Homo sapiens: one gene and its partner. Changing the gene in region 2 together with the main gene of any one other region gives a genetic interaction. Each region holds a gene or a part of one and is shown on either strand. Other genes may lie near its edges.

Region 1 (2,978 bases), on a different chromosome or scaffold from region 2:
AGGAGGAAGAACAAAAACAGGAAATGGAGGTTAAGATGGAGGAGGAAACTGAGGTAAGGGAAAGTGAGAAGCAGCAGGATAGTCAGCCTGAAGAAGTTATGGATGTGCTAGAGATGGTTGAGAATGTCAAACATGTAATTGCTGACCAGGAGGTAATGGAAACTAATCGAGTTGAAAGTGTAGAACCTTCAGAAAATGAAGCTAGCAAAGAATTGGAACCAGAAATGGAATTTGAAATTGAGCCAGATAAAGAATGTAAAACCCTTTCTCCTGGGAAAGAGAATGTCAGTGCTTTAGACATGGAAAAGGAGTCTGAGGAAAAAGAAGAAAAAGAATCTGAGCCCCAACCTGAGCCTGTGGCTCAACCTCAGCCTCAGTCTCAGCCCCAGCTTCAGCTTCAATCCCAGTCCCAACCAGTACTCCAGTCCCAGCCTCCCTCTCAGCCTGAGGATTTGTCATTAGCTGTTTTACAGCCAACACCCCAAGTTACTCAGGAGCAAGGGCATTTACTACCTGAGAGGAAGGATTTTCCTGTAGAGTCTGTAAAACTCACTGAGGTACCAGTAGAGCCAGTCTTGACAGTACATCCAGAGAGCAAGAGCAAAACCAAAACTAGGAGCAGAAGTAGAGGTCGAGCTAGAAATAAAACAAGCAAGAGTAGAAGTCGAAGCAGTAGCAGTAGCAGTTCTAGTAGCAGTTCAACCAGTAGCAGCAGTGGAAGTAGTTCCAGCAGTGGAAGTAGTAGCAGTCGCAGTAGTTCCAGTAGCAGCTCCAGTACAAGTGGCAGCAGCAGCAGAGATAGTAGCAGTAGCACTAGTAGTAGTAGTGAGAGTAGAAGTCGGAGTAGGGGCCGGGGACATAATAGAGATAGAAAGCACAGAAGGAGCGTGGATCGGAAGAGAAGGGATACTTCAGGACTAGAAAGAAGTCACAAATCTTCAAAAGGTGGTAGTAGTAGAGATACAAAAGGATCAAAGGATAAGAATTCCCGGTCCGACAGAAAGAGGTCTATATCAGAGAGTAGTCGATCAGGCAAAAGATCTTCAAGAAGTGAAAGAGACCGAAAATCAGACAGGAAAGACAAAAGGCGTTAATGGAAGAAGCCAGGCTTTCTTAGCCATTCTTTGCAGCAGAAGATTTCTTGATAAAAAAGGATTACCTTTCCTTGTAAAGAGGATGCTGCCTTAAGAATTGCATGTTGTAAAAAATCTTTTTGGAAAATACAGACTGTTTGTTTACCAGACATTCTTGTACTTTTTGCATAATTTTGTAAGAGTTATTTATCAAAATTATGTGAGGTTCCAAAATATGTAAAAATGATAATAATAAAAAAAGATTAACATCCCTTGTCATCTTTTTTAAATATCCTATACTCTTCAGTAAGAATCTGTATATTTTAATAGGCAAATCTTTAAGTCTGTTCCCTTCTAATTCTGTATCATACATTGCTTTTGTAGAAATAAATGTGTGTTTATTTCATTATTTTTGGGATGTCCTCGTTGACACTTGTATAATAAATATCCTCTTTATCATTTTCAGCTTTTAACACTAGATACTGCACGTGATTAGAATGTTTTTGAAGGTTTCCTCGTTTTTATTTGCCTTGGACAGTTTTTAGTTGTCAGAGTCAGAGCTTTGCAGCTTTGAGGGGGAACAGTTCTCTTTAAAATCATTTGCTATTTTCTATTCTCCCTTGTTATTTTAATCTAAGCATTTTCCCCCGTTTCTCATATTTTAACCATATGTTCGGTAGATAACTAAACAGTATGATCTGGTTGGCATTTTCTTCCTGATGATGGGAGCGTCATTCTTTTGTCTTCATGGTTACTTGTGTGATATAACATACATCTGTTAAAGAAAATCACTTCTTTCTAGGGGAGGGAGGTAGAAAAGTATCTTTCAAACTTGGTTTTTGAGTTTGTGTCTTGTCTTAACTTTGTGTTGGCTCTAACTTAAACATGCTGATATGTGTTTTCAAGAATTTTGTTTAAGGAAGTATTGTATGGAAGTCCACAAAATGAAGGAAGTTCATCTAGGTTTTAATATGTAAGCAAGATAACACACAAGTGTACCAAGTGATTATTAACTTTGTTGTTTTACAAATTTGTATGAACTTGGAGTATCTGTTGGCCATTACTATACATGTGCAAATAAATGTGGCTTAGACTTGTGTGACTGCTTAAGACTAGTACTTGTATTAACTTTCTGATGCTTTATACAAGAGAGCACTTAAATTGCATCCTTCTTTGAGTTTAACACTGTAGCTTTAGCCTTGACTTTGAATATTCATTTTGCCTTCCCTTGACAAGTAAATGGTTACAGTGAAAATGTGAAGAAGTATTTCCAGTTAGTTTTTGTGTGTATATAACTCACTTGTGTAAGTGGATGTGTTAAAAGATCTCTTTTTAAAAATCCTTTTATTGGAGTAATTATTAAAACAGTAAATGCATAGAGCTTTGCACAGCAATCTGTATCCATGAGCCAGTTCCACCACTAGTACCTTCATCTGTGGCTTATCCAGCAAAATGTTTCATTTCCTGTGTGCCCTGGCAGGAAAGAGGTTGGTAAATAGTGAATTAAAGGGATGATCATAAAATTTAACCTGGTTAAAAAGCACCTTATTTGATGACAGTTTGTATGCACTAAAATCCTTTATACAAATTAAGTTTTGTCTACTGATTTGTACCTGGAAAATCTGAACAATATTCATGTTGCTTACAGAAAAGGCTAGTATTGGCTTGAAGCTCTACTATAGGAGGGGTAGTAATGGGGGTATAATGAATGCTTGAGGGGAAAGTAATTTTCAGTAATTTCAGTTAAGCGCTACTGATCATAGTATGTGAAAGGAATTTTTCTTATATGGAATGCTTGATGAATTTGCATGTCATCCTTGTGCAGGGGCCATTTTAATCTTTTTTTTTTTTTTTTTTTTTCTCGGAGACAGGGTCTTAGTCTGTCACCCAGGCTGGAGTGCAGTG
Region 2 (4,952 bases):
CATCTCGAAGAGAAAGTGGAGCATATTACCTGATGCACATGACTTTGTTGGGAAGAGCTTTACATTTAGGGCAGCGACTTTTGGGTAAAGTAGTGACAAGAGCATAGAAAACCAAGCAAATGAGAAAAACAATGTAATTAACTCCAGGAAAAATCAAAAGTTGTACCTAAAGGAAATGTAATCATAAACCAATAAAGGGCTCAACAGGAAATGGTAAACATACAGTTATACTAAACTGTGAATGCAGGTTTCAGCCAATATCAAACTGCTTAGGGAGACTAATAGGAGAGGAAATGTGGGTGTCGAGGGTGGGGGTGATAATATGTTGTGGGAAAGACAGTGTAAGAGAAGCTAACTCCTCTTCCATTGTAGGAAGTCAACAATGTCAAGTCAAGATTAAGAAATAGCATTATTTAAGTCTTTACATGAAGCTAATCACTAAAGATCCCTGAGTTGAGTAGTGTGTGTTTGGAGAAGCAGGGATTGATTTGGTGGAGGAAGAGGTTCTCTTCTTAGTGCTGTTGTTTTCTCAGTGAAATAAGGAGGACATGATCTAAGAATGTTGGAGGTTTGAAGAGAATGAGAAGACATGAAATAGAGTCTGGGGATGTAGGATTACAGTCAGGAGATGCTGAGTGCCAGTTTAAGATTGGTGGTCATACGCAACATCACCAAGTCTATTAATACCTCTTTCTGTATATGGCTCAAATTTTATCCCCTCTCTTCACACCAATTGCTAACAAACTCACGCTTATTCCCTTTGAATTTCACCTGGATGGCTGCAGCACCCACCTCTCAAGATTCCTGCCCTACATGCCATTCTTAAAAGAAAATGTGACCAGATCACTTCTCTGCCTAATCTTCAACAACGGGTTCTCACAGCTCTCAGAAGAAGGTGACAAGAATCTCTGACCTCACCCTGCTGGCCTGTTCCCCTCACCTGGCCACACAACCAAGCTGGTACCTCCACGCTTTCATCATGTCCTCTCAAGTACACTGTCTCCAGCTACACCCCTGCACTCCTCTCCGGGAATTCTGTTTCTCCTCTACCCAACCAGACCCTGTTCCATCCTCTGTTTTTTCCTTGCTACCAATTCAGGCCCACGCCTCATGCACATTCTCTGAGAATTATGTACATAAGTACCTGACTCTCCTGGATGTAAGCTGGGTGGGCTTAGCAGGCAGAGGCCCTGTGTCTTACTTTATCTCTGCATCACTGATGTCTGGCACATCAAGGACTGCAAGTTTGCTGAGAGAATGAATCGCCTTTTATACATGGAAATGTAAGCTCTAAACTGCCTCAGAGCATATGCTGGTGGGTGACAATCTGAGGAGGTCATGAATATAGGAGAATATTGAAGAGGTCACACAGGGGAAACAACTTTTCATTATGAAAAACTGGGAGACTGACATTTAAATGGTTTATCTGCATGATTAAATTAATCACATTTCCAACAGTGCATCAAGCATCTGAGAATAACATTATTTTGAGTAAAAACAGAAACTCTTCGGGAGAGACCCCCTCCCCACAGGTCAGGCTGCTCAAATGTCCACCATGTCTAGCAGCGCAGAGAGATGGAGCTCAGAGGCAACTTCCTCTTCCCTTGAACTCCGGATCAGCCTTTCCAGGTGCTTTAGTCGTTCGCCTAGACACGTTCCTGTCGCCTCTGACAGCTGCAGTTGCTCCCTCATCATGTCACTCTATTTGAATAAAAAAGAAACTGAACAGTTTTGGGATGTCAATAAACCACGACCTATCTCTGGGAAGGTACTAGATCTGGATCATGTTAGAAACCTCATCTGAGTAGTCATTTATTTTTACAGAGGGAAAAAAATTATCCTTTGTATATCCTTCCAGCCTCATTTAGCTCGTACATTCAGCTGGTATCTGTATATAGACTGTTTGCCTTTGTATTCTATCATGAACAATTTCCAGTGTCAGTCATTTTTCACCCAGGCTGGAACGCAGTGGTATGATCGGAGCTTACTGCAGCCTCAAACTCCTGGGCTCAAGTGATCCTACCAGCTCAGCCTCCTGAGTAGCTGGGACAACAGGCATGTAGCACCATGCCTGGCTAATTATGTACTGTAGAGATGAGATCTCTTTATGTTGCCCAGGCTGGACTCAAGCTCCTGGACTTAAGCGATCCTCCCTCATCAGCCTCCCAAAGTGCTGGGATTACAGGCATGAGCCACCACGCCCAGCCAGTCATTTTTAGAAAATATCATCGTCAAGGGCTGTGAATTATTCTATCACATGAATGTGTTATAATTGTTTAATCAGACTCCCATCTTCGGATATTTATTCTGTTTCGACTTTCATACAATAATGCTACAGTAAACATTTTTATACATTAATTTTTGGGGAATATCTGGTAGGTCAGAATTCTTTAGGTTAGAATTGGTAATTCAAAGGGTATGAATATTTTTAAAGTATTTGCCAAACTGATGAATGGAAACAGTACATCATTTTAATTTGCTTTTCTCCTCTATTGAAGGACTTCCTAAAGCCAGTCCAGGAGCACAGTTTTTACCTGTTCAGTGGCACATATCTGTGATTGAAACTCTGTTTTTGCATCTTTAACCACTGAAGGAAGAATGGTAAGGTAAAAAGACCTTAGGCTTTGGAGCCAGTTGGATCTGGCTTTGAAAAGCAACCTGACCACTCACTACTTGAACACTCTTGGGTGAGGCTCTTGACTTCTGGGAGCTTACCTTCCTCATTCATTAGTTTTCCTCAGGAAAAATTAATCCCAGAAGAGAGGTCTGGGTAATGCCAAAGCTCAGACAATATGTGCTCCAACAGAAGCTGCTGTCATCACCTTAATGCCCTTAATTACACATCAGCACACAGTTACAGGTCTTATTCAGTTCTTAAGAATATTTCAATTCTATTCTTCATTTATTTCGTAGGCAGAAACTCAAAATCAGTTGGGTCTCTTTAACAATGATATGGATAAAGTTTAAGAAAAGGTCTAATTTGAGCTAATAATTTGTCGGTCATCAAAACATCATAGGATAAATCGTGATATTACTTTTTTCCCCAGCCATTCTCTCAATCTTTAATTCTTATGTAAATGCCAAATGTATACGTTCTTCTCACCTGTGGGCTAGTAGTTACAGATGTTTTCATCACAGGTTCAATAGTGTGAGAAAGAGACACTAGAGTCTGAGGAAGATAGAGGGGAAGGGAAGTTAAATCCGTAAATGCTCCTGAGTCTTCAGACAACCATTGCTGAAGCTGATCTTCAAACCTGAAACAATATGTAATAAATTCAAAAATATTTGAGCATTAGGAAGTTAACTATTGTTCATTAATCTTCTATATATACTTAAAAACTTTTTAAGCCTTTGCTTTTTTAAAATTTTATATAATTTTTTTTTTTTTTTTTTTGAGACAGAGTCTCACTCTGTTGCCCAGGCTGGAGTGCAGTGGCATAATCTCGGGTCAGTGCAACCTCTGCCTCCCAGGTTCAAGTGATTCTCCTGCGTCAGCCTCCTGAGTAGCTGGGATTATAGGCAAGTGCCACTGTGCCCAGCTAATTTTTTGTACTTTTAGTAGAGATGGGGTTTCACCATATTGCCCAAGCTGGTCTTGAACTCCTGACCTCAGGTGATCCACCCACCTCGGCCTCCCAAAGTGCTGGGATTACAGGAGTGAGCCACTGTGCTTGGCCAATTTTATTATTATTTTTTTTTGACAAGGTCTCGCTCTGTTGGCCAGGCCGGAGTGCAGTGTTACAATCTTGGCTCACTGCAACCTTGACCTCCCAAGCTCAAATGATCTCACCTCAGCCTCCCAAATACCTGGGACTAGAGGCGCATGCCACCCAGCTAATTTTTGTATTTTTTTGTAGAAACGGGATTTTGCTGTATTGTCAGGCTAGTCTACAACTCCTGAACTCAAGTGATGTGCACACCTCAGCCTCCCAAAGTGCTGGGATTATAGGCATGAGTCACCACACCCAGCCTTAAGCCTTTGCTTTTTACTAAGAATATAACTAAGTTATGACATCAACTGAGAAGCAGAAATGTACTTATTAAAAATTTAACAACTTCCTATGATAAAGCTTAATTTAAAAAAAAAAACTAGGCTGGGCTCGGTGGCTCATGCCTGTAATCCCAACACTTTGGGAGGCCGAGGCGGGCAGATCACCTGAGGTCAGGAGTTCAAGATCAGCCTGATCAACATGGTGAAACCCCGTCTCTACTAAAAATACAAAAATTAGCCAGGCATGGTGACACGTGCCTGTAATCCCAGCTACTTGGGAGGCTGAGGCAGGAGAACTGCCTGAACCCGGGAGGCGGAGGTTGCAGTGAGCCAGATCACGCCATTGCACTCCAGCCAGGGCAACAAGAGCAAAACTCCATCTCAAAAAAAAAAAAAAAAAAATTAGAGAAACCACTTCCCTTTAATTTATAAATCCAATTCCAATTTATATTTAATGAAAAAGGTGGTATTAATCCAAAAACAACTGCTTCGATGTGTTACTTAACATTACTTGTAATTGTCTTGTTTGGCTTATCTTATTTAATTTACTTTGGTTTTATGCATCTATAATTAATTCTTCTGACATTTTCCAAATGAGTGGATTGCTGCTTATAGCTTAAAATTAACTCAAAATAATATCCCACTGCCACCTAACATACTCTAGAGCTGTCTACTTCCATATACCGGTCTTTTCAAGAAAAACAATCTTGGCCAGGTGCAGTGGCTCATGCCTGTAATCCCAGCACTTTGGGAGGCCAAGGCAGGTGGATCACCTGAGGTCAGGAGTTCAAGACCAGCCTGGCCAACATGGTGAAACTGCGTCTCTACTAAAAATACAAAAATCAGCCAGGCATGGTGATGGGTACCTGTAGTCCCAGCTACTTGGGAGGCTGGGGCAGGAGAACTGCTTGAACCTGGGAGGTGGAGGTTGCAGTGAGTCGAGATTGTGCCACTGCACTCT

Evidence for each region. A genetic interaction does not mean that the proteins touch.
Region 1: changes in MCM3AP (region 2) and PNN together harm fitness more than expected from each alone (negative genetic interaction), as found in Homo sapiens cells (one large-scale study listed by BioGRID).

The regions. Positions count from the first base shown.
Region 1 is NC_000014.9:39,180,770-39,183,747, forward strand, and holds the end of PNN (pinin), read left to right. Parts: coding exon 1-1,094; 3' UTR 1,095-2,451; downstream 2,452-2,978. UniProt on the Homo sapiens protein: Transcriptional activator binding to the E-box 1 core sequence of the E-cadherin promoter gene; the core-binding sequence is 5'CAGGTG-3'. Capable of reversing CTBP1-mediated transcription repression.
Region 2 is NC_000021.9:46,233,726-46,238,677, forward strand, and holds the end of MCM3AP (germinal-center associated nuclear protein), read right to left. Parts: intron 3,255-4,952; coding exon 3,104-3,254; intron 2,602-3,103; exon of another isoform or gene 2,499-2,601; intron 1,702-2,498; coding exon 1,543-1,701; 3' UTR 1,408-1,542; downstream 1-1,407.